Regions from separate parts of the Homo sapiens genome. Here regions 1, 3, 4, 5 and 6 are each linked to region 2. The links come from fine-mapping of genetic effects on gene expression. A gene starts in region 2. Each other region holds a variant in brackets. All regions are shown on one strand. Distances are between the middles of the regions. Region 1 overlaps JMJD7-PLA2G4B (JMJD7-PLA2G4B readthrough). Region 2 holds the start of MAPKBP1 (mitogen-activated protein kinase binding protein 1). Region 3 overlaps MGA (MAX dimerization protein MGA). Region 4 overlaps SPTBN5 (spectrin beta, non-erythrocytic 5). Region 5 has its middle 21 kb from the start of MGA. Region 6 overlaps JMJD7-PLA2G4B (JMJD7-PLA2G4B readthrough).

The links. PIP is the estimated chance that this variant, and not a neighbour inherited with it, causes the effect.
Region 1: its variant is fine-mapped to the expression of MAPKBP1 in whole blood (TOPMed, PIP above 0.99).
Region 3: its variant is fine-mapped to the expression of MAPKBP1 in whole blood (TOPMed, PIP above 0.99).
Region 4: its variant is fine-mapped to the expression of MAPKBP1 in cerebellar hemisphere (GTEx, PIP above 0.99). The same link has a PIP of 0.9 or more in cerebellum.
Region 5: its variant is fine-mapped to the expression of MAPKBP1 in whole blood (TOPMed, PIP above 0.99).
Region 6: its variant is fine-mapped to the expression of MAPKBP1 in whole blood (TOPMed, PIP above 0.99).

The regions. Positions count from the first base shown.
Region 1 is chr15:41,845,625-41,849,709 of GRCh38, reverse strand. JMJD7-PLA2G4B (JMJD7-PLA2G4B readthrough) reads right to left here. Exons shown (of 25, transcript NM_005090.4): 20 at 3,935-4,072; 21 at 3,663-3,767; 22 at 3,328-3,507; 23 at 2,875-3,041; 24 at 2,187-2,373; 25 at 1,567-2,061. The coding sequence ends at 1,850. PLA2G4B (phospholipase A2 group IVB) reads right to left here. Exons shown (of 20, transcript NM_001114633.2): 15 at 3,935-4,072; 16 at 3,663-3,767; 17 at 3,328-3,507; 18 at 2,875-3,041; 19 at 2,187-2,373; 20 at 1,567-2,061. The coding sequence ends at 1,850. SPTBN5 (spectrin beta, non-erythrocytic 5) reads left to right here. Exons shown (of 68, transcript NM_016642.4): 68 at 1,082-1,564. The coding sequence ends at 1,094. Among named protein-coding and RNA genes, the nearest start is that of PLA2G4B, 8.8 kb to the right of the region's middle. The variant G/A (reference allele first, on the strand shown) is at 2,045.
Region 2 is chr15:41,771,975-41,776,059 of GRCh38, reverse strand. It overlaps MAPKBP1 (mitogen-activated protein kinase binding protein 1), which reads right to left and starts at 1,576. Exons shown (of 31, transcript NM_014994.3): 1 at 1,450-1,576; 2 at 671-893. The coding sequence starts at 784. RefSeq lists an enhancer at 2,080-2,129.
Region 3 is chr15:41,678,437-41,682,521 of GRCh38, reverse strand. All of the region lies in intron 2 of MGA (MAX dimerization protein MGA), which reads right to left. Among named protein-coding and RNA genes, the nearest start is that of MIR626, 11 kb to the left of the region's middle. The variant G/C (reference allele first, on the strand shown) is at 2,328.
Region 4 is chr15:41,869,106-41,873,190 of GRCh38, reverse strand. SPTBN5 (spectrin beta, non-erythrocytic 5) reads left to right here. Exons shown (of 68, transcript NM_016642.4): 27 at 732-889; 28 at 1,274-1,409; 29 at 1,671-1,816; 30 at 2,631-2,745; 31 at 2,838-2,948; 32 at 3,171-3,350. Among named protein-coding and RNA genes, the nearest start is that of MIR4310, 4.6 kb to the right of the region's middle. RefSeq lists a silencer at 3,177-3,437. The variant C/A (reference allele first, on the strand shown) is at 2,432.
Region 5 is chr15:41,637,154-41,641,238 of GRCh38, reverse strand. It overlaps a transcript of MGA not described here. Among named protein-coding and RNA genes, the nearest start is that of MGA, 21 kb to the left of the region's middle. The variant A/T (reference allele first, on the strand shown) is at 1,713.
Region 6 is chr15:41,831,282-41,835,354 of GRCh38, reverse strand. JMJD7-PLA2G4B (JMJD7-PLA2G4B readthrough) reads right to left here. Exons shown (of 25, transcript NM_005090.4): 2 at 462-615; 3 at 132-385. It overlaps JMJD7 (jumonji domain containing 7), which reads right to left. Exons shown (of 8, transcript NM_001114632.2): 2 at 462-615; 3 at 132-385. Among named protein-coding and RNA genes, the nearest start is that of JMJD7-PLA2G4B, 5.2 kb to the right of the region's middle. The variant G/A (reference allele first, on the strand shown) is at 1,733.

The sequences.
Region 1 (4,085 bases), 74 kb before region 2:
TGAGAGGAATCCAGGCCACAAAGCCCAGATTTCCACAGACTCTACAGTGGTCCCCTCCCAGGGCTCACTCCAGGCTCTAGTGTGGGGACCCTGTAGACGAAGCTGCCCAGGCTCCCTGTGCCCTTCCTGCTCGGCTGCTTGTGGGAGGAGCAGCCAGGTTTCCCTCTGCCCAGTGCTGAGAGCCTGCCTGGGTTTGTTTCCCATGCACTCCTCACTTTCCTCCCTCCTCTCCCCTCTCCAAGGCACAGCACATTGGCAGGACGGCCAGACCCTGCCCCACCCTTGTTCCAACCCGTTCTCTACCTGGTCCTCCCCTGCTTTCCCCAATCCCCACTCCATGGCAATGGAGAGGTCCAGCATGTCCCGGCCTGCAGGCCAGGGAGGAGATGCGAAGGTGGATGTGCAGGGGCAGGAGGCTCTTACCTGGCTCCTCAGTCCCTCCTTGTAGATCCCAGCATCATTTCGATGCTCAACCCCCCTCACCCACATCTCCTTCCCTTCCAAACCAGAGGGCTTCAGGCTCTCCAGGGGGAGGGGACACCTGAGGTTAGGTGAAAGTGGAGGAGGGACTGGAGACAGGCAAATCCTCCGTGCATGGGCCCCATGCCAGGATGTGCCTAGATGTGCACACGCATATACAGCCGTGTGCCTGGAGGGCTCATACCATGAGGGGTGGCAGCCACGGCTGTGGTCTCCAGTGTAACCATCTGCTCCCAGTCCTGCAGAGCCCAATATATGATTTAGATGATGTGTTGCTGACGGGACAGGCCTTGTCCTGGACACAGTGGCTCCTGAGGCTACCAGGACAGCCATTTTTTCTGCTGTCTCTAACCCAGGGCTGGGGCTGCTAGGCCAGCTGACAGACGTAGAGTTGGGTTATGAAAGTCGAGGCAACTCCCACCCACTCACGCGTCACTGTGGTCGCTGCTGCAGCGCCTGTCAGTCAGCTCTGGAATCCACTCCCACGCTTATTCTAGGAGGCTGGCTGGTCCAGGGGAGGGCAGGGGCACCAGTGTGTGTTTGTTTGGAGAAGATTCTGGGGTGGCCATACCCTACTAAATTCATTCCGTTTTCCCAACAGGTCTGATCCCTGAGGTGAACCCCAGTGCAACACCAAACTTCAGGGGCACAAGCGAGGACACATCTAAGGGACCAGAATAAGACTCAGCTACAGGCAAAAGGGCTCCTTCCCGTGGCTGCTTCAACCCAGTTCCCCAGGCCCAGCTTCTGGAATAGACAGTTCCTTCTGGTTAGATGGGTCCTACCATGTGGCAGGAAACAGCCATTGCCTGGCCTCCCCCTGCATTCCTGTCTGGGTGAAGAGGAGACGTGTTACGGCAGAGCAGGTGGGCAAGGCCAGGGCTACCCCAGGCCCATGTGGCCTCCTCCTTGCTTGGAAGGGGTGACTCTGAGCACAGGTAGACGCAGACGTGTGCAGAGAATGTGCTCTTCGGAGGAAGAACACTGATGAGCGAGCTCTGTACCAGCCCTTGCCATGTACAGCCAAGAGCCTAGAATGACATGGCCCTTCTCAGCAGTAATAACAGATGGTCTCAGCGCCTCACATTTGTATGAGTCTGTGATGTATCAAGTGCTCCAACTACTCAAGGTAGCGCAGAAGGGAAAACAGGCACAGGCCGGGGGGTTTTGGGTGATTACACAAATGGGCTTGGCCTCCTTACCCCACTGCAAACTGCTGAGGCGCAAGGGAGCTCCCAGCCCTCAGCCTGGACCCTGGGACCGTGCCACCTGAGCCCGAGGCTCTGAAGCACTGCGTGATGACAGTTCCCACCTGCAACTCAGCAGCCAGGGAATGAATGAGAGTTAGGGGTGGCAGGGGCCCCGGCCATCAGTGGGGCCTGCGCTGCCGCCTCCGCTGCACTGCCTGGCGCAGAGCCTCCAGCAGCTGCTCCTGGTTGTTGCAGACATTGTAATGTGTCAGGTGCAGCAGCTTGTCCACGTCCTCCTGGCTGTAGGTCACCTTCGTGTAGTGGTAGGGAGAGTCCGATGAAGACAGGTTCACCTCCCCAGCTGCCGCCTCCTC[G/A]GGTGTCCGCCGGACCCCTGTGGAGAGAGTGCAGCCTGGCATGGGGAACACGTTGTGGGGAAGACAGGTTTGGAGAGGCACAGGGGACGGAGGAGGTGTGGGGGACTGGGGCAGCAGGATGGGGAGGTGAACAGCAGCTCACCAGGGGCCGAGTACTCCCGGAAGGAGTCGCTGACCAGAGGAAAGTGCAGCACCGCAGGGGCTCCGGGGCAGGTGGGGTCGGAGAAGGTGTGGCACTCCCGAGGCTGGAGCTGCTCTTCGGGGCTGGGCGAGATGGGTGGGAACGGGATCCCCTGCTCCTGGCAGAACCGGCCCAGGAGCTGCAACTGCTGCAGGGCAGGCAGAAGGGGCTTCAGAGGGACAGGGCCCCTGGCATCCTCAACACTGGGGCTGACGTAAGATGCACAGGACCTGGGGCTCAAATGCCAAAACGGTCTCCAGTGGGGCCTATGAAGCCAGTCGTTGGAAAAAAACTCTCCACACCTGACAGGCCTCGGTGGCAGCTCCTCTGGGGCTAGACGGAGCCGGGTTACTCCCAGCATTCCAGTTCTGACACTGGGAGCCAAAGCAGACTCAGCAGGTGGGCCCAGAGGCCCAGGACCACACCTCGCAGGTCAGTAAAGGGGACCCAGCTACAAGATACCAGGAGAACCTCGCCAGCCTCCCAACTTCCGGAAAAGAATGAGCTCCTCTGGTGGCAAATTAAGATTCCAGTGTCCCAATCACAGCTCCTAAAGGAAGCTGAACCAGACACTGGACTCCAAAGCCCCTCTCTTCAGGGGACAGGGGCCACCCACCGCCTCCCTGGTGGGCTGCCCACCCTTCCCAACCTGGAAGGCTCCGTGGAGGTTGTAGTCCAATGACAGGATGAGGTCCACGTCCCGAGTGGGCTGCAGGAGGGGCAGGCAGCTGGTATTGATGAGGTAGCCAACATCCAGCAGGCACAGGTGGGGCTCCGAGGGTGTCAGCTGGTTGGGGAGCCCATCCAGAGTGGTAGCTGGAAGGTTGGGGAGAGCAGCAATTGTCACAGATACCAAGGGTACCAGATTCCTGCTGGAAGGAGAGACTCTGGCCTCTGGTCCCTGCTCTCCTGCTGAACCAACACCCCCACAGCCCTGCAGGTGGGCCCTGGGTCCCCAAGACAAGGAGAAAAAGACCCCTGTTCCAAGTAGTCCAGGGAATCAAGCTCAAAGCAGGAGAATGGGAGTGGACTGTGAGGGGTATCTGGACTGGGGACTCAAGGCTCAGGTGGCCACAGGAGGACTTTGGAGAGAAGCAGGTACCTTTCCATGTGGAGAAGTGAGGATGCTGAAAGTAGTCTTTGTGGAAATGGAGGCCACGCAGGAAATTATGTGTGGCCTGGGCCAGTGGACGCCACGTCAGAAGATCGGTGAAAAACTCAGCTATCCTGCCGGCTGTTGAGGGTGGTTCTTCTATCTTCAGAAGGGGGACCTGCTCCTTGTCTACACAGGCAAGGTGGGGGAAATGGGGACTCCTGCACCTTTATCCCCACCTTGGTGGTGACCCTGGAGGGGGAAGAGGTGTGAACCCCCCGCCCCCTGGTGCAGCCCCAGCTGGCTGCCCCTTGGCACCCTTATGAAGGGCCCGGAGCACTTACCCAGGTTGGCCTGGTTCCTGACCCAGCGGTCCCAGAACTGGCTGGGCTCTGAGGCCCAGTATAAGCTGTCCTGGAGGTTGGCTGCATACAGGTTGCTCCAGATACCTGAAAGAGCGGCCGTGAGGGAAGAGGGCCCCCGACTCTTGTCCCAATCCTACCCTTCCCCATGGCCAGTCCTGGCCCAGGAAACTCTTCTGACCGAGGCTGCCCTCTCACCCAGGACCCATTTTCCCTGCTCGGCCCAGCTTCCCCAGCCTGCCAGTGCCCCTCACCTTCTAAGAAGCAGATGCGGGACTCAGGAAGCCTCTTCATCAGCTGCCCCATAAAGAACTCGGAGCCAAAGAGCTCAGAGGGGATGAAGGCCCCGTACTTGGGGAAGCCGACCTCGTAGGGAGAGAACTCGCACCACTCTGTGAGGAGTCC
Region 2 (4,085 bases):
AGGAACTTTGCCTCTGAGGATCATCTGCAGCTGAGTGGGATGTGGCTCTTGGCATATAGTGAATGAGATAAGCAATGCTCAAGGGCCATCCAGAACTGTTTTGCTGACAGATATCTGGCTTCTTGCATGTTATTCCTAAGAAGCCAAAAGGCTCCAGTTAGCCTCTTGAAGAGACAAAAAAAATTTGTTTTCACCGTAGGCAAGAGCAATTACCAAGCCAGTAACTCTGACTAGGTGTTTTAGCATATTTCTTTCTGCCACTACAGTCTTACATAACCCCAGCTGTTACGTTAACACCTGCAGCTACATTAGTCACAGCTTAGCCCTTCACAAGGTATGTGTTCCTACTGTCCTCTCCCAAGAAGGGAAACTGAGTCATAGCATATCAACTGGCTTCCCAAGCACATGCTTAGTGTATAGTGAGGCCACAATTGAACCCAGGTGGTCTTCCTACTATTCACCTTTTCTCATGGATGAATCTCAGCATGCCCACCCCTGCTGCTCTTTTTCCTTCAACCTAAAACCAAATCATTGCCTGCAGAGATCATATGTGATCCTTTAGAGTCAACAAGGGCTTCTAGTTATCTTTCCCAAGAAACAGGAAGGTTAACGAGGAACATGGAGCAGGAGAGGGTGGGTTTGGAAAGAGGTGGATCCCAACAGGACTCACCTTGGAGCTGAGGTCCTCTCGTCGGTTTCCTGCCTTACTCCTGCGCAGTTTGATGGATGGAGATCTCAACAGATTCTTGATCCGGCTGGTAATGGTTGACCCTTCCACAGCCATTATGACGAGAAACCCTTTGGGACAGTCCCCGGCCCAGTCCTGGGTCTTGTCTCAACAGCGGCACTGTCTTCCCACTCCAGAGGGCTTCCCAGTATGCCCTCTCACTGACCTGAGATGGCAGAAGCCACCTTAGTATCACAGTGTCTTACCTTCTGCCTAGCGAAGTCTGCAGCTTTTACCTCTGGGTATTGCTCTCACCATTTCCCTCATCCCCACCTTCTAGCCCTGCACAGTTTCTTACAACGTCGGAAGGAAAGGCTCACGAAAAAGGGGGGGAAAATCCTAAGCCACGAAGAAATGCCAGGCCCACGCCCGCCAGAGGCGTTTAACTGGCGAGATGGATGGGATGGGCCCCAGTTGGTCTCGTGGACGATCTGGTTCCCGTTAATGCCCAACTGTTCCCATGGCAACTGTAGTGTCCAAGGGAGGAGGCCGCCGAGACCACCAGGGATTTCCGCAGGCCTGGACACCTGCGCTAGCGCCGGCGGGGACGCGGCGGGGCTCGCCGTAGCCCACAACTCGTTCTGCCACGGGAGCCTCCCTCCCCCACTCCCTATCCTCCAGAGCTCGCTCTCCGCCCTCCACAGCGGCTCTGGACCTTTATCTTTCACCCGCCTCTGAGGCCCCTGCTACTCGTCAGCGCCCCCGTTCGGGCCCAGCCTCACCAGCCTCGGCGAGCTAAGGCCACCCCGCTCACAGCGCCCTCGGGCATCGCGTTCGGCAATTTCAGCTCCGCCGCGGTAGCCGCAGCGGTAGAGGCAGCAGCAGGAGCTATGGTGGCACGATCGGCTCAAAACGCGAACTACCGCCTGGGCCAAGCCGCGGGCTGGGTGGGCGGAGCCGACGCGAGGGGCGCGGCCTGTAGTCAGGAGAGCGCTTCCAGAGTGGACGAGCAAGGTTTACGGGGGCGGAGCCAATGAAAGGGCCCAGGAAGCAGACGGCTTGGGACTAGGGAACCACGGAATCCGCACAATTGCGGGTACCGCTTTTAGAGGAAGGTCAACAGAACATGGCTTCAGAATTGAGAGAACCAAGCCTTTTATGGTATTATCAGGCCTGGTCCCCCATGGAACTGCACTTCCCAGAGCCCCAAGACGATAACCACGCCTCCAGGGTGTTAAGGTTGTCATCTGATAGGCCCGAGGGACCGTAGCTGAAACTCCTAGCTCAGAATTACAAGACTGAGCTACAGCCTAAAAGCTCTGCTCCCAGCGACCACAAGTGTTGAGATTTAAAGCGACTGAAGTAGTTTCTGCTCGCAGCCAGTCCGGCACGTAGACTCAACGTGGAAAGGATTATTCTGAGTAATGCAATTTAATAGCTAAGAACAGTATTTTTGCACTGGGCAACCTGGTCATCATGAAAGGGGAAAGGGTGGCCTTGAACAGAGCTTTGGGCGTGCGGGGGAAAGAGAAGTGAATATGCTATGTTATAATACTTTAGGTTTCATGGCTTCTTTAGCCTCCAACATCCCATTGTGCTTCCTCACCTAAAGCTGACCAGGACTTTGTTGCTCCAGATCTTTTCCTCATTCCATTTACTTATGAATCCTTTTATCTAGGGCTGTTCCTTGCTGAGGTCACTGTCGAGCTTGCTGATACTAGATCGAGGGGTAGTTTTCTAACTCATGTCGGGGGAGGCAGAGGGAATACACGGAAATGTTACATGAAATAGTATTTCCTGAGTATTCTCCACTTGACTACTACCACAAGAAATCACCTTATGAAAAAGCCTAAGCCAGAGACTTGGGTCCCAAGGGAATAGTACACTGGTGTGTCCGTCTCACCCTATCCAGATCTTTTGAATCCCTGTGGAGATGACATGTGTCTGCAAGAGGGAAGAACCTCTAACAAATTATTATACCTTATGAAAAAGCCTAAGCCAAAGACAAGGGACCCAAGGGAGTACTACACTGGTGTGTCTGTCTCACCCTATCCAGATCTTTTGAAACCCTGTGGAGATGACATGTGATAACAAGAGGGAAGAACCCCTAAACTCATTGCTTGTGTACAACGGTGAGCCTTTAGAGCCAAGTGGCAAAGCACATATTTTCTTGTGTATACTGTAGCCACGTACTGAAAATTAGATTTGTAAAGCTCACAAGTTGACATGGAGATGATGGATGTCACCTCCTGGAGACCAACTGGCAATAGCACGTGGCCTTCTTCCCTTCAACCATGCACTGCAAATATTATGAAACAGAAAATACGATTTTCAAATTTATTTCCCAAGTCTGGAAGAAGAAGGCAAGAACCATTAGCTACAATATGCAAGAGGTAGTTGGTTCCTTCAACCTCTTGGTAGTTACATGATGGGACCTCTCCATGGGATTGAAAGCTAATAAATGGTGCCACCTGGTGTCTTTACTTGCATGCTGCAGACCACGGCAGATGCCATCTCCACCCATGAAACTAGAGTAAAAATGTGCCCACAAGAGCCGTCCCTAATCCTCTCCAGATCATTCTGGTGTCCGCTAACGGTTTTCTCACCTGATCACTCATGGCCAGATAAATGGTTTACAAAGTATCACTGGTCATTTCTTTCATGAAAAACAACTGAAAGCATTTTAATGAGGATTTCTTAAGTCTGGAATCTGGGTACTTCCAGTCTTAGGCCAAAGCCACGCTTTTTTTTTTTTTTTTTTTTTTTTTTTAAACAGAGTCTTGCTCTGTCCCCAGACTGGACTGCAGTGGCGATCTCAGCTCACTGCAACCTCCGACTCCTGGTTTCAAGCCATTCTCTTGCCTCAGCCTCCCGAGTAGCTGGGATTACAGGCACGCGCCACCACACCCAGTTAATTTTTGTATTTTTAGTAAAGATGGGGTTTCACCATGTTGGCCAGGAGGTCTCGATCTCCTGACCTCGTGATCCGCCTGCCTTGGCCTCCCAAAGTGCCAGGATTACAGGCGTGAGCCACCATGCCCGGCCCACACATTTTTAATTCTTCACAATTCAGTCCAACTTTTATTGTCTAGGTACTACACTGCCTTTGAGATACCAATATAGGAATAAGCTATATAGGCTATTCCCATTCTTCATTAATTCCTCAGAAAATAACAGTCCCAGGTCTAATGTGAACAGAAGCATTATTCACTTTTCTCCACTCAGATTTACAGTCATGCACTGTATACATTTCAATGACCACATGATCCCATTAAATTATAATATCATATTTTTACCATACCTTTCCTATGTGTAGACACACAAACACCACGTGTTACAACTGCCTATGATATTCAGTGCAGTTAACATGCTGTACAGAGTTGTAGCCTAGGAGCAACACAGCCTAGGTGTGTGGTTA
Region 3 (4,085 bases), 94 kb after region 2:
GTGACAGAGCGAGATTCCATCTCAAAAAAATAAATAAATAAATAAAAAGAACCTATATGAAAATAGCAAATGTAAAGTTAGCAGGATGATAGCAAAGGAAAATCCCAAGATGGCAGCTTGGTAGGGGCCTAGAGTACAACCAGATCAGATTGGCAAAGGAGAATAAAGAGCTCCCGAAGAAGTATGCAGAGGAGGTACACACAAAAATTTACTTTCAATAGATGAATATGTGTATGCACATATATGTACGTGTGTGTGTATGTGTATGAATGAACCAAAAGATTTTATTAAATAATGTAGGTAGAAGGGGGGTGCAGTGGCTCACACCTATAATCCCAACACTTTGGGTGGCTGAGGCAGGCAGATCACCTGAGGTCAGGAGTTCGAGACCAGCCTAACCAACATGGAGAAACCTCATCTCTACTAAAAATACAAAATTAGCCGGGCATGGTGGCACATGCCTGTAATCCCAGCTACTCCGGAGGCTGAGGCAAGAGAATCGCTTGAACCTGGGAGGCAGCGGTTGCAGTAAGCCGAGATCGCACCATTGCACTCCAGCCTGGGCAATAAGAGCAAAACTCCATCTCGGAAAAACAAAAAAACAAATGTGGGTAGAATAAGCACCAGTACATATAAACTACAAATATATTTTTTAAAAAAGCAATAATTAACTACTACAAAACAAAGTTATAAAAGAAAATTAACTCATAGCATGACATTTGGCTCAGCAGTATAGAATATTTATCTCATAACATAAAAAAATGGATTATTTGGCCAAGCATGGTGCCTCACACCTGTAATCCCAGCACTTTGGGAGGCCAAGGCAGGAAGATCACTTCAGCACAGGAGTTCAAGACCAGCCTGGGAAACATGGTGAAATCCTATCTCTACAAAAATAAAAAAATTAACCAAGCGAGGAGGCACACACTTATAGTCTCAGCTACTCGGGAGGCTGAGGTGGGAGGATCACTTGAGCCTGGAAGGTTGAGGCTGCAGTGAACTGTGATCACCCACTACACTCCAGCCTGGGCAACCAAGTGAGACTCCGTCTCAAAAAGAAAGAAAAATTAGTTGACCAAAAATTATGATAATGACACTAACAGAATTAAAAAAAAAAAAAAACAGAGTATACTACAAGGATTTAAAAACAGTAACAACTAAACGGCCCATATATTGTACTAGAAAATAATTTTAAATGGATTACATGTAAAATTGATAATTATTTGGCATTATGCATATGACCTAGACAGAGGCAAATACCACAAGAAATAGCTAAAATGGAAAAACTAATTTCCTCTATAAAGAAAACTAGGGGGTGAAAAATGGTAAAGCCAAGTCACTACTATTTTTCATCATAAGTGGTTTTATTTAATCTTTTTACATTATGTATTATGTATTTGCTGTATAATGAGCTTGTCTGGTCTTTGTCCAGGGTTCCTGGTACAAAGCTTCTAAAATCTTTGGTATTTCCAGAGTGACAGAAGGGACTGTCATTCATGAACCCACTGGCTCACACCTGAGTTTAAGCTAATGACATGACCTGTAGTAGACCCCCTAAATAGATCCAGGATGGCACTGGTCTCCAAAAACAACAACACTGTGATTAAAGAACTGGGACTCTGAGCCAGCTCAACCTCTAGGGTGGGGAAAAGAACTGAAGATTAAGTTCAATCACAGATTTTGTCAATTACCCCTATGTAATGAACCCCCAAAATTTTGAATACCAAAGCTTAATAAAGCTTCCTGGCTGGTGAACACACTGATGTCCCAGAAGGGTGATGTACCCTATATGTTTCCATGGGGAGAGGGCATGGAAGCTCTGCATGTGAGACCCTCCCAGACCTTGTTCTTTACGTCTCATTAGGCTGGTCCTAACTTGTATTCTTTACAGCAAAATTCTAATTCTAAATACAGTGTTTTCCTGAGTTCTATGAGTCTAGTGAATTAGTGAACCTGAGAGAGATTGTGAGAATCTCAGGATTTGTAGCCAACTGGTGAAAAGTACAGGTGGCCTAGGATCTCCAGTTGTGGTTAATGTCTCAACTAGGTGCAGTCTTGTTGGGGACCATGCATTTCAACCTATGGAGACCAACTATGGGTTCTTATTCAATGCATCAGGGGGGGTTAAAACAGAATAGTACTATTTTTACTTAATTTTTTAAATTGTAAGGCAACTGTGTACCTCTGAAAAGTTAAGTAGATTAGTAACATTATTGAATTTCCTTTTAAAAATTATAATTCTGACAAGGGCAAAACTAGAAGAAAGAATGCTGCAACAACCTGAGCAATATACTCAAGAGACAGAGTAAGAAATGCATCAAAGTAAA[G/C]AACCAACAATGACTAGTTAGAAAAACGCCTTACCACAGAGGTGGAATACAGTAGGACCATGGTCAGGCAGTTACCATCATAAAGCTATACCAATTAAAACAATGTGATTTGGGCCTTACGTGTAGACAAACTGATCAAGGGAAGAAAACAGTGTCCAAGAATATACACACACGTACACAATCATCTGAGTAACCCCAACGGTCAATAAATAATACAAAAAGGTGTTCAACTTTGCTAATCACTAGAAAAAGACAAACTACAACCATAATGCTCCCACTTTTGCCACTATTTGCCACCTACTACTGAAAGTCCTATTTAGAGCAATTAGACAAGAAAAAGAAAAAAAAACATATTCAAATTGTCAAGGAGTTTGTAAAGATATCTCTTTTAATAGATGGTGCAATCTTATATAGAGAAACTTTCAAAAACCCACATATACACACAAAAAAAACGCACTCAGTCCCCCCCACAACACAACACACACACACAAGCCACTCACTTAATAAACAATTCAGCAAAGTTGAAGGATACAAACTCAACACACAAAAATCAATTGTATTTCTACACAATGAACAATATGCAATACAAAACAGCAATGGGCAATATAAAAAGAAAAGGAAATCACTCAATATATAATAGCATCAAAAAGAATAAAATACTTAGGAATAGATTTAACTAAGAAAGCAAAACACTTTTACATTGAAAACCATAAAAGCATTATTGAAAAAAATTAAAATGGAAAGATATCCCATGTTCATGAATAGGAAGACAACCCAAAGTGTTGAACGAATTCAACAAAATCCTTATCAAAATCCCAACGGGATTTTTCAGAAGTAGAAAATGAAACCTCGGCCCAGCGCGGTGGCTCATGCCTATAATCCCTGTAATCCCAGCACTTTGGGAGGCCAAGGCGGGCGGATCACAAGGTCAGGGGTTTAAGACCAGCCTGGCCAATATGGTGAAACCCCATCTCCACTAAAAATACAAAAAATTAGCCGGGCACAGTGGTGCGCACCTGTAGTCCCAGCTACTCAGGAGGCTGACACAGGAGAATTGCTTAAACACAGGAGGCGGAGGTTGCAGCGAGCCGAGATCACACCACTGCATTCCAGCCTGGGAAACAGAGCAAGACTCAGTCTCAAAAAAGAAAAAGAAAAGAAAATGGAATCTCAAGGGGCTTTAAATAGCAAAAACAATTTTGAAAAATAAGAACAAAGTTGGTGGTCTCACACTGCCCAATTTGAAAATGTCTAGTAATCAAAATAATGTGACACTGGCATAAAGATAAACATAAACATATAGGCGAACAGAATACAGAGAGCTGAGAAATCAATCTGCACATATGTGGGCAATTGATTTTCAACAGGTGCAAAGACCATTCAATGGGAAAAGGACAGTCTTTTCATTTTGTGGTTTTTTTTTTTTTTGAGATGGAGTCTTGCTCTGCTGCCCAGGCTGGAGGACAGTGGTGCAATCTCAGCTCACTGCAACCTCCGCCTCCCGGGTTCAAGCGATTCTCCTGCCTCAGCCTCCTGAGTAGCTGGGACTACAGGTGTGCGCCACCATGCCCGGATAATTTTTTTTGTATTTTTAGTAGAGACAGGGTTTCACTATGTTGGCCACACTGGTCCCCAACTTCTGACCTCGTGATCCGCCCGCCTCAGCCTCCCAAAGTGCTGGGATTACAGGCATGAGCCACAGCACCCGGCCAGGACAGTCTTTTCAATGAATGGTGACGGGAAACTGGATACACACAT
Region 4 (4,085 bases), 97 kb before region 2:
TCTGTCAAGGTCACCTGCCCAGCCCGCTCCACATCTCCCACAGGTGTCTTCCTCCCAGGCTTTACCTGTCATCCTTTGAGTTAACCAAATGCCCTTCATGAAGCCGACCTCCTCCCACAAACATCCCCTGGCTGAAGGGAGGGAGGTCTCGAAGTCCCCTTCCTCACTCCTGAATTCGGACTCCCAGAACCACACAAGCTTCAAAGCCTGGAGCCCACGGCAGTCCCGGTTCCTGCTGTCACTGAACTGTCCTCCTGTCTGGGCATGTTTCCTGCACAGCCCCAGTTCCAGTGTGTTCTGCGACAGGACCTTCAGAGAAGGTCTTTCTAAAGGCCTGTAGCCTTGGCCTCACGGAGCACCCATCTCCCGGCTATACTGGACAGCTTGTTTAACTCTGCCTCTCTCTTACACATGGATGTTGGGGTCCAGTCTAATGCCTCCTGTGCCCTCCCTTCCTTGGCCCAGATTAGCCAGCATTCACCTTTCCCTGCTAAATAATGAGCCCTCAGTGGGCACAGACCAGGTGTTCACTTTATGGAACAATAAGTACTTACTCCATCAGTAATGGGTAGATGGATGCTGGGTGGGTGGATGAATGAGTTGAGGTAGATGGATGGGCGTGTGAGTGGTGGGTGAATGGATGAGGATTGGTGACTGGATGGGTGGGGGACGGACAGGTGGGTGGATGAGTCACCCAGGCTGAGCCTGGCATGGGTCCTCATGCATCATAGGCTCTACAGGAGGAACTAGCCATTTACTGGAGCTCCATGGAGGAGCTTGACCAGACGGCCCAAACCCTCACTGGCCCCGAAGTCCCTGAGCAGCAGCGTGTGGTGCAGGAGAGGCTCCGGGAGCAGCTGCGGGCACTGCAGGAGTTGGCGGCCACACGGTGAGGACACCATAACCCCTCTCATCAGTGGGTACAGGAGGCCTAGCCACAGCTGACTGTTCCCATGCCATGGCCCAAAGTCAATCAGAACCCATGACCCCAGGCTGTAGAGATGCATTGGGAAAAGGGTGTGTGTTGCTCACCTCTTTCCATAAATTCTTCAGTGAGGCCCCACAACTCCCTGCAGTCCATCTCCCCACGTCCACACCCTCCTCTGCCCCTACACCTGCACTGCTGTGTCTACTACTCCCTGAATCGTGAGCCGCAGGCTTGGACAGAGACCATGAGTAACCCCAGTTTTCAGATTGGCCCCTCTGGCTGGCCCGACTGGCCCCCAGGGGGGTGGGCAACTCACTTCTGGGGAACCACGGACTGTTACCACAGGGACCGGGAACTGGAGGGGACCCTGAGGCTGCATGAGTTCCTGAGGGAGGCTGAGGACCTGCAGGGCTGGCTGGCAAGCCAGAAGCAGGCAGCCAAAGGAGGGGAGAGCCTGGGAGAGGACCCCGAGCACGCCCTGGTGAGAAGAGGGCCAGGGTCAAGGAGGGTGCCCTGAGGCAGAGCCTATGGGGTGGGGAAGCTGGCTCTGGCGGGGCGGAGGAAGAAGGTGGCAGCAGAGCGGTGAGCCCTGGCTGAGGTGGGGCCTCCTCAGTGGAGCGGGCAGACGCCGTGGCTATCCAAGCCCACATCACCCAGTTGGGCACTGAGGTGCCTCGATTCCCAGGCTGCTTGACGCCTAACCAGCTGGGGGCTACCCTGTCACCCACTCCCCTCTTCTCAGCACCTCTGCACCAAGTTTGCAAAGTTTCAGCACCAAGTGGAGATGGGCAGCCAGCGGGTGGCCGCCTGCCGGCTGCTGGCGGAGAGCCTGCTAGAGCGTGGGCACAGTGCTGGCCCCATGGTCCGTCAGAGGCAGCAGGATCTGCAGTGAGTGCCCAACGGGCCAGGCCAGCATGGGGTTTGGGGGAAGGAGCTGGGCAGGCAGGGCCCAGAGTGGTAAGAGAGGATGGCATGCTGTGAGGGCCACACTGGCCCTGGCTGCCCACGGGGCTCTGCAGGGGGCCTAGCTCCAGAGAAGCTGAGCCCGCCACAGGCTCTGGTCTGTGAAGGAAGGTGAGGCTGGGTGTGCAGGTCAGAGTCCTGCCCCCAGGATTGAGAGCAGGAGCTGTGGGAAGATGGTGGGGCCAGACATCAGGGCCTTCCCCTGAGCTACCCCAGCTCCTGTGCTCACTCGGGACAGCCCATGCCTCGTGTGGTTCCTAGCTGTCCACTTGGCTGATTTGGATCCACTCCCAGCCTGTGAGCTTTGAGGCAAGGTCATGACTTGCTCATAACCCCTAGCCCAGAGCCTGGCCTGGCAGAAGCCTTAGGAGCTCAGCCAGTTGCAGAGTTAGCGAGGAACGGAGAGATGTGGCCTCTGCCCACAAAGCGTCTGTGATCATAACCTGGGTGACGCACTGTGAGTCAAAGCACAGGATGTAAAGAGTATCACAGCACAGATACCATGCAGTGCCGAGCATTACAGCAGCAAAGCACTGAATT[C/A]ATGGTAAAGCTAGAAGACAGGCTCCCAGGAAGAAGGTGCGTAGGCAGGGCCACAGGCGGGAGAGGTTTTAAGAAGGAGGAGCTTTGGGCAAGTCCCGATACAACTCAGAGAGGAGCGGGCTGACCAGACCTAGCGGGAGGGAGGAATGACACGGCCCGGCAGCTGATCCCCGGCTGGTCTTCCACACGCCGTGGGCAGGACCGCCTGGTCGGAGCTGTGGGAGCTGACCCAGGCCCGAGGCCACGCGCTCCGAGACACCGAGACCACCCTCAGAGTTCACAGAGATCTCTTGGAAGTCCTCACCCAGGTCCAGGTGTGAGCCGGAGGGGTGGCTAGAAGTGGATACACTCCAGGCTCAGTGCCCACGCTCCATCCCTCATCTCCTCGGCATTCTCCCTTCCTCAGGAGAAAGCCACGAGCCTCCCCAACAATGTGGCACGGGACCTGTGTGGGCTGGAGGCGCAGCTGAGAAGCCACCAGGGGCTGGAGCGAGAACTCGTGGGCACCGAGCGGCAGGTGAGCCCAGCTGGCTGCCTCTCCGACCCAGGCCCCTGCAGCCCCCTCAGGCTGGCCTGCCTGTTCCTCTAGATTTTCCACTGTCCCTCAGGGCCTCCCATGGGCCTCCTGTGCATGGCAGGACGTGGCCCAAGGGGGCCAGAGTTCCCAGGCAAGGGATACATCTGTGGGATAATCAGGAGGACATGACCCTTGCCTCCCTATTCCCTGCCCCTCCCGCAGCTGCAGGAACTGCTGGAGACTGCAGGCAGGGTGCAGAAGCTGTGTCCGGGGCCTCAGGCCCATGCGGTGCAGCAGAGGCAGCAAGCTGTGACGCAGGCGTGGGCAGTGCTGCAGCGACGCATGGAGCAGCGCAGGGCCCAGCTGGAGCGGGCACGCCTCCTGGCCCGCTTCCGCACGGCGGTGAGGGCTCCTGCCCTTTGGGTGGTGTGTGTGTGCATGTGTGTGTGCTGCACCATGCATGGGCATGCACGCATGAGGCCCTCCAGCTCCGGAGGGAGAACAAGCATGGACTTGGGTGGGAGAGCACGAGCACACGGGATGTCAGTCTGGCTGGTCAGGGGCTGAGCACATGGGCATAGCAGTGACACCTTAGGGTCTGGGTCAGTGCCAGCAAGGTGAGTGGCAGGGCAGTCATGCAGGGTCCCAGACAGGGCTGGGAGTAAGAACTGCCCAGGAAAGCTCATAACTGGAGACCCAGATGTTAGACAGTGACCTCTGGATCAGTCAGTATCTATTTAATGTCTGTCTTCAGCTCCCTGCTGAAGCCACGGGTGGAGAGAGGAGGGCAATATAGAAGCTATGGAAAGTGGAACTGCTGCCCTCATGGAGCCCTGCTTCCTGGGGAGATGAGCCCGAAACCCAGAGAATCAGACTGGGACAGTAGGTCCTGGCCACGGGGTGTCCCCGGCATCCCACTGTCCTGGGACCTGGCAGACCAGGAGGCCCAAACTGACACTGCAAAAAGGCTTGAGTTTAGGGACCTAACTCTGCTGATTTGCTAGCAGTGTGAGCTTGAGCAAGGCACTTAACCCTGGGTTTGTCATGCACTTAGAGTTTACAAGACTCTTTCTGCCATTTACCCTTCCTTCCTCCATGCAATGAGACATTTGGACAAGGGCCTGAAGTCCCTCCAGC
Region 5 (4,085 bases), 130 kb after region 2:
TCAACTGAAGAATGGATAAACAAAATGTGCTGTATCAACACAATGAAATATTATTCAGCCATAAAAATGAATTAAGTATGGATACATGCTACAACATGGATGAACTTTGAAAACATGCTAAAGAGTCTGATCACAAAGGACCTCATTTTGTATGATTCCATTTATATGAAATGTTCCAAAACAGATCAATCCATAGAGATAGAAAGTAGACTGATAGTCACCTAGGCCTGGGAAGACTGGGGGAGAAATAGGGAATGACTGCTAATGAGTATAGTGTTGCTTTCTGGGATGCTGAAATGTTCTAAAATTGTGGTGATGGATGCATTACTATGAATACACTAAAAACCACTGAATTATACACTTTAAATGGGTAAATTTTATAGTACATTAATTTTATCTCAAAACTTTAAAAACTAAGAGGAGGGCAGGCGCAGTGGCTCACGCCTATAATCCCAGCACTTTGGGAGGCCGAGGTGGGCAGATCGTGAGGTCAGGAGTTTGAGACCAGCCTAACTTACATGGCAAAACCCCGTCTCTACTAAAAATACAAAAATTAGCTGGATGTGGTGGCGTATGCCTGTAATCCCAGCTACTTGGGAGGCTGAGGCAGGAGAATCGCTTGAACCGGGAGGCAGACATTGCAGAGAGCCGAGATCGCACCATTGTATTCCAGCCTGGGCGACAGAGCGAGATTCCATCTCAAAAAAAAAAACTAAGAGGAAATACCTACAAATAAATGTTAGACGCTAATGTCACAAAACTAAGGTTCAAATGATGTACAATCTTACATCAACGATAAGAAACTGTATCGCTTCTCTAGGCTCAACAACTCCTTTGTAAATTCTCAGTAACTTTAAGGTTAGTGAGAACTCTAAGACAAACAATGAGCACCAAGTTGCACCTCAACTCCTTAGCTTAGCATATAAGGGCCTCAATACTCTGGACCCAGCTTTCCTTCTTCCTGCTGCTGTATACTCAACTACTCCTTATTTCCTAAATATGCTCCCCGGGTTTTTTTATCTGAACCTTTGCATTTATAATTACGCTGCTTTAGCATCTTCTCTCTGCCTTCGTAGTCCATAAATTCACCAGCATCATTCTCCCTAATCTCCTCCTATTGAAATCATCCTCATTCTTAAAGTCGAGTATTTTCATGAAGCCTGCCTTGATGCCCTTGCTGTGTAAACACTGGCCTTCCTCTAAACCACCAAAGGATACTGTCATTCTCCTTTGGTGCACAGTAATCTAGCTCTCATCATCCTTGACAGATTGGTCAGCACACTCAGAGTCATCTCTCAAGGCAAAAGCTCTACCAACAATGCCTTGCAGATTAAGGAACCTCTTATTTCACCTTCAACTCCTAACTCCACATAAAAACCACATGCTCCTGGGGCCAGGCACGGTGGCTCACGCCTGTAATCCCAGCACTTTGGGAGGCCAAGGCAGGCAGATCACGAGGTCAGGAGATCGAGACCATCCTGGCTAACACGGTGAAACCCCGTCTCTACTAACAATACAAAAAAAAAATTAGCTGGGCGTGGTGGCAGGTGCCTGTAGTCCCAGCTACTCTAGTGGCTGAGGCAGGGGAATGGTGTGAACCTAGGAGACGGTGCTTGCAGTGAGCCGAGATTGCGCCACTGCACTCCAGCCTGGACGACAGAGCGAGACTCCATCTAAAAAAATAAAAATAATAAAAATAAATTAATTAATTT[A/T]AAAAAAAAAAACTACATGCTCCTGACTCCTGTGCCGAGCTAATTAGATAGGGGGATCCAACAGACCTAAAGGTTCTATGAATTAACCATCAGCTTGTGAGGAAAGAGTGCTATGAGAGTTTAGTTAAATAGGAATGACAAACATTCTCTGACTTAAATGTAAAAATGTACTCTCTTATTCCCTCTCAACTGAATGGAAAGTGGGAGGAAAAGACTCACGGAGCTGGAATCAAGAATAGAAACTAAAACATTGCCAGAGAAGGGGCCATAAAATAGTAGAGCCACACAAGAGAAGAAACCATAAGACAAGGAAAAACACACAAAAGAAAAGGGTGAAGTCAGAAGTGGGATGGGACAAGAATAGTATAACAAGAGGGGAAAAAAAGAAGACATTATGATCCCCAACCAGGAAGAGAAGGACAAATTCTCATGCTGAAAGGGCTGAGATGTGAGATCACTTGAGACCTGGAGTTCAAGTCCAGCCTGGGCAACACAGTGAGACCCCCATCAAAAAAAGGTCAGGTGTGGTGGCTCACACCTGTAATCCTAGCACTTTGGGAGGCCAAGACAGGTGGATCACTTGATCCCAAGAGTGCAAGACCAGCCTGGGCAATAAGGCAAAACCCCATCTCTACCAAAAATACAACAACAAAAAATTAGCAGGCATGGTGGCGCAGGCATGGTGGCACGCGCCTGTAGTCTCAGCTAATAGGGAGGCTGAGGTAGGAGAATCACTCAAACTCAGGAGGCAGAGGTTGCAGTGAGCCAAGATCACACCACTGCACTCCAGCTTGGGCAAGAGAGAAAGACCCTGTCTCAAAAAAAAAAAAAAAAAAAAGAAAAAGAAAAGAAAGGCCAGGTAAAATAGCTCACACCTGTTATCCCAACACTTTGAGAGGCCAAGGTTGGAGGATAACTTAAGCCCAGGAGTTCAAGACAAGCAAGACCCCTGGGAAACATAGGAAGACCCCGTCTACAAAAAAAACTTTAAAAATTAACTGAGTGTGGTGGTACATGCCTGTGGTCCCAGCTACTCAGAAGGCTAAGGCAGGAGGATCTCCTGAGCCCAGGAGTTAGAGGCTGCAGTGAGATATGATCATGACACTGCACTCCAGCCTGGGTGACAGAGCAAGATTGTCTCAAAAAAAAAAAAATTCTAGCATATTTTAAAATTAAAAATTAACCCATATCTGGCCAGGCACATGCCCATAATCCCAGCACTTTGGGAGGCCGAGACAGGCGGATCACCTGAAGTCAGGAGTTCGAGACCAGCCTGACCAACATGACGAAACCCCGTCTCTACTGAAAATACAAAAATTAGCCGGGCATGGCAGCGCACACCTATAGTTCCAGCTATTCAGGAGACTGAGGCAAGAGAATTGCTTGAACCCAGGAGGCGGAGGTTGCAATGAGCCGAGATCTCACCACTGCACTCCAGCCTGGGCGACAGAGCAAGACTGTGTCCCAAAAAAAAAAAAAAAAAAAAAAAAAAAAGCTGGGCACAGTAGTGGCTCACGTCTGTAATCCCAGTACTTTGGGAGGCCGAGGCGGTGGACCACCTGAGTTCGAGACCAGCCTGGCCAACGAAACCCCGTCTCTACTAAAAATACAAAAATTAGCCAGATGGGGTGGCAGGCACCTGTAATCCCAGCTACTCAGAAGGCTGAGGCAGGAGAATCTCTTGAAGCCGGGAGGCGGAGGTCGCAGTGAGCAGAGATCACGCCATTGCACTCCAGCCTGAGCAACAGAACAAGACTCTGCCTCAAAAAAAAAAAAATTGTAACCCATATCCCAGTATCCTAACAGATATTCATTTCTGGTTCCTTCTAGCATATATCCACAAGCCATTCAATTTTAAACTGATAATCACTCTATTCTAAAATGAACCCTGTCACCACATTCCCCTCAACCTGGGGGAACTTTATAGCCCCTCTATAAGCATCACAGGAGTCGTTGGACACAATCGGCTTTTCACCACATTCCTTCTGGGAGCCTTTACCTAACAAGTGATTTCAACTCTGCTTATTCAACCCCTCACCCAGAATACAGTCTTTGTTGCCTTTGACGCTAACTTTATAAAAAGGATTTACCACCTCTATGAGATCAAGTAATATACTATTTGAATCTTTAAACCAGTTTCAGTACCAAAACAACTTGCAAAGTCCAGACAATTAAGTCAATCAATAACTTCCAACATTCCCTCTGATCTCTATAATCCCAGGTCACCAAAGACAAAGGCAATATGATACGAACCATGACCTATCTTCCTAATCTGTAGGTCCTCAACCCTGGTTCTTTCCACACTGTCACTGCCCAAATCTTTCCACTATGCCCAAAACAATACTCACTCTTATCATACCAAATCTCAGGCTT
Region 6 (4,073 bases), 59 kb before region 2:
TTAGTGAGCTGCACCAGATGCTGACAGGACCAAGCCCATAGGCCAGGTCATCACCTAAGGGCAAACAGGCTGACCCCCCTCCTTCCCATATCTTCCCTGTCCAGGGCCACGACCACCCCACCTCCACTCACCCAGGGCTTCGGAGGCCCAGGGCACATGGGATTCCAGATCAGGCAGCAGCTGGGGCAGCTCGCTGGGCAGGTTGGAGCACTGCTTCTGCACATAGAGGACTCCAGGGTGCTGGGCCCGGCCCTCCAGCACATCCAGCACGAAGCTCAGGGGCAGGCGGCGCTCAGCTGGCATCATGAAGCGATCCCCTCTCACGGCATCCGCGTAACCATCTGGGGTCACGGCCACACTCACCTCTGTGGAGCCCACTGTGGCTCTAGAGGAATGGACACTCAGCCCATGCCCAGATGCCAGTAATCACTGCTCACACCTGACCCCAGGGCAGCTCCCACCTGAAATAGGGGAGGGACCACTTCTGGAGGGCCGGCCAGTGCTGCAGAGCGTTGCGGATAATGCACGGCCTGTTGGGGCAGACCCAGTCCCGGTAGAAGTGGAGCGGAGTTGGGGGTTTGTCCAGGTAGGGCACAGCAAGAGGCACGCAGAGCTCTGAGAGAAAGAAGAAGACAGGGGATGGAAGGGCTGATGTCTGCAGCACCCAGTCCCTGCCCAAGAGATGCCCTCCCTGGAAAGGCCGCGCTGTGTCACTGGGAAATGCTCGTTGGTGACCAAAGGACCCTGGACAACCAGTAATAGAAAGATGAGGACGGAAAAATGAAAGCAGAAAGCATCACGCACACACACCAGCATGGGCCCTGACCGTCCACAGGGCCAGAGGCTGCTACCCAGCCCATAAGCCAAATCCCCTGTGGGGCTGTGTCTGCACAGTGGACCCTATGCCTTCCCACCCTGGAGAGGCCAGCCTCCTAGCATCTACCAGGAAAGGCCACCATGGAAGTGGCATTGGGAGCTCCAGAATGAGTAAGGCTGAGGCCCCATGGCCACGGGCTATTCTGGGTGTTGTGTGGCTCTGGGAAGCCCCCTTTAACAGTGACATTTACTGAGCACCAGGAATGTGCTCAGCACTTGGCTTGGCTAATCTGGGGCTATCAGGGATGACACAATCATCATCTTAAGAAATTTACAACCTTCTTACCCGGGAAGACAAACTACCAGATGACACCAATGGAGGAAAAGGAAGGGCTCGGCTATGGTTTGGGTCCTGCTGAACAGCATCACCATCTCCAGACACCCAGGGCCACCACGTACACTTCGGCAGGCTGCGTGGTGTGCCGCCTGCGCAGGGGTCTACAGTGGCCCTGTGTCACCTCTAATCAAAATCTTTTTGACTCAGCTTTCTCCTTCACTCCCGTCATCCTACTGATTGGCTCTGAGTCCTGTTGATTCTGTCTCCTATGTCTCTCAAACCCACCGTCTCCTCTCCTCCACTGGCATCCACATTCCAGCTACCTCCTTTGGGTCCTCACTCAAATATCACATTGATAAGACTTCCTTCTCTGACTATACTTTCTAAATTTATAATCTGTCCCCCTGCTGCAAATCTTTATATCCCTTTCCGTATTTTTTCTCGTTAGCATTCATCACCATCTGACATGCTATATATTTTAGGGCTAGACGTGGTGGCTCATGTCTGTAATCCCAGCACTTTGGGAGGCAGAGGCAGGAGGATTGCTGAGGCCGGGAGGTCAAGACCAGCCTTGGCAAC[G/A]TAGGGAGACCCCATCTCTACAAAAAAATTAAAAATTAACTGGACATGGTGGCATGCACCTATACTCCTAGCTACGCTAGAGGCTGAAGCCAGAGGATCACTTGAGTCCAAGAGGTAGAGGCTGCAATGAGCTATCATCGTGCCACTGCACTCCAGCCTGGGTGACAGAGCAAGACTTTATCTCAAAAAAAAAAAAAAAAAAAAAAAATATATATATATATATATATATGTATTTCACCTACATAAACTGTTTATCATTCTTTCACCCTTGCTAGAATGTGAACTCCACAAGGGCAGAGACAGTTGTCTGTTCACTGATGCACCCCTGGGACCTAGAACAGTACCTAGCACATAGCATGTGCTCAGCAAGTATTTGCCTAATGTTGAATAAAAGTCTCCAGTATCCTGGCTGGATGGTTGCAGTAGTGAACTAGCTGGTTTCTCTGGCTTAATTCCACTCCCACCCAAAGCATTCATCATCATAGCCCCAGTCATCTTCTGAAAATACAATCTCATATTGTCACACCCCTAGTAACAAATGCCTTGATGGCTTACCACTGCTCCTTAGAGAATGCTGCCTGCCTTGGCACGCATGACCAGGCCCAACCTACTCTTCCAGTCTGATTTCCTGTCTCGTGCCTGCCCTTGCCACACACCCTCTATTCAGGTGGTACCTTTGTTCCAGCTGCTCACTCAGACTGGAGTGTCTTTCTACTGGTTTTTATAAAGTGTACAGGGCTTCGCTTTGCTACATTCATGCTCTAGGTCGAGCCAGAAGGCCGTGGTTCCCATTTGGTGGTTACCACATGCTGCTCCAAATGGTCCCAGCACTGATGTTCACCTCTGAGGTTACGCTGCACCTCTCACAGCAACACCATGCCAGTCACCTTTACTTTCTGATCAGTTGGAAAGTGAATGTTCTTAGATCAAATATTGTAACTGAGTGAGAAGACCCCACTGGGCCCAGGAATACTGGAAAGGAAAGAGTTGGTGTGCCTGCTTGCTTCCCTGGCTAGAGGCAAGATGGCACCCATCCAGTAGATATGGAATCCAGGAGACAGCAAAGTGGCAAAGGCCTTCCCAGTCACGCCAGCCCATCCAAGCAGTCACCTTGAGAGATGGGGTGGTCTGGGGCTCAGTACATCTTCCTGTTGTACTCGCTGAGATTAAGAGACAGAGTCTTGCTCTGTTGCCCAGGCTGAAGTGCAGTGACGCAATAATAGCTCACCGCAGCCATAAACTGTCACGGGATCTTTGGGGTGTTGCTTTACCAGCTGGAAACCTCTGTGGCCAGTGATGCCTTTGCCTGTTTTGCTCGGGCCCATTGGGCCCACTCGGCCCTGCAGGCTGTGCTCAGCTCATGCTACCGGCCTGGATCCCACACCTGCCAAGGGCGAGTGGGGCAGCGAGGGGTGTGTGAGCGAATGAGTGTGGGGTTTGGCCACTGCGCACAGCTAGGCATGTGGGCTGCGGTGGGGCAGGCAGCTTCAGGTGCCAACACAGGTGCTGGTTTCCTGCAAGGCTGCAGCTAGACCAGGTGTACCATAAGCAGCTTCCACAGCTGACACTGGGAAGCATGGTGGTGCCTGGAAGCTTGCAGATACCAGGAACCGCAGAGCCCTAAAGAGGGTGTCAGAACCCCAGCTTGGGAAGCTCCTGGGTCTGGACTCCCCAAAGGGCCGCAGTTCTTCTTTCCTTCTGGACACCCACAATGTGGCGAGCAAGACGCATGGTTCAGTCCTCTTCATGTTACAGCTCTTTTAGCCCCGCCACTCAGCAGGTCCCAATTCTTGTCCTGCATCCAGGAAGAATGAGGTACACACAGACAAGCAGAGGGTAAACAAGACAAAGAGGAGCTTTACTGAGCCATAGGATAGCTCAGAGGAGACCCACAGTGGGCAGCTCCTCTCCGCAGCCAGGGTGTCCCAACGAGTGTTCAGCTCTCAGCAAAGAGGATAGCTCCTCTCTCTGCAGGCAGGTAGTCCTGTTGAGTGTTCAGCTCAGCAGAGCTTTGTTCCAGCTGCTCACTCAGACTGGAGTGTCTTTCTGCTGGTTTTTATAAAGTGTACAGGGCTTCGCTTTGCTACATTCATGCTCTAGGTCGAGCCAAAAGGCCGTGGTTTCCATTTGGTGGTTACCACATCCTGCTCCAAATGGTCCCGGCACTGATGTTCACCTCTGAGGTCACACTGCATCTCTCACAGCCACACCATGCCAGTCACCTTTACTTTCTGATCAGTTGGAAAGTGAATGTTCTTAGATCAAATATTGTAACTGAGTGAGAAGACCCCACTGGGCCCAGGAATACTGGAAAAGAAAGAGCTGGCATGCCTGCTTGCTT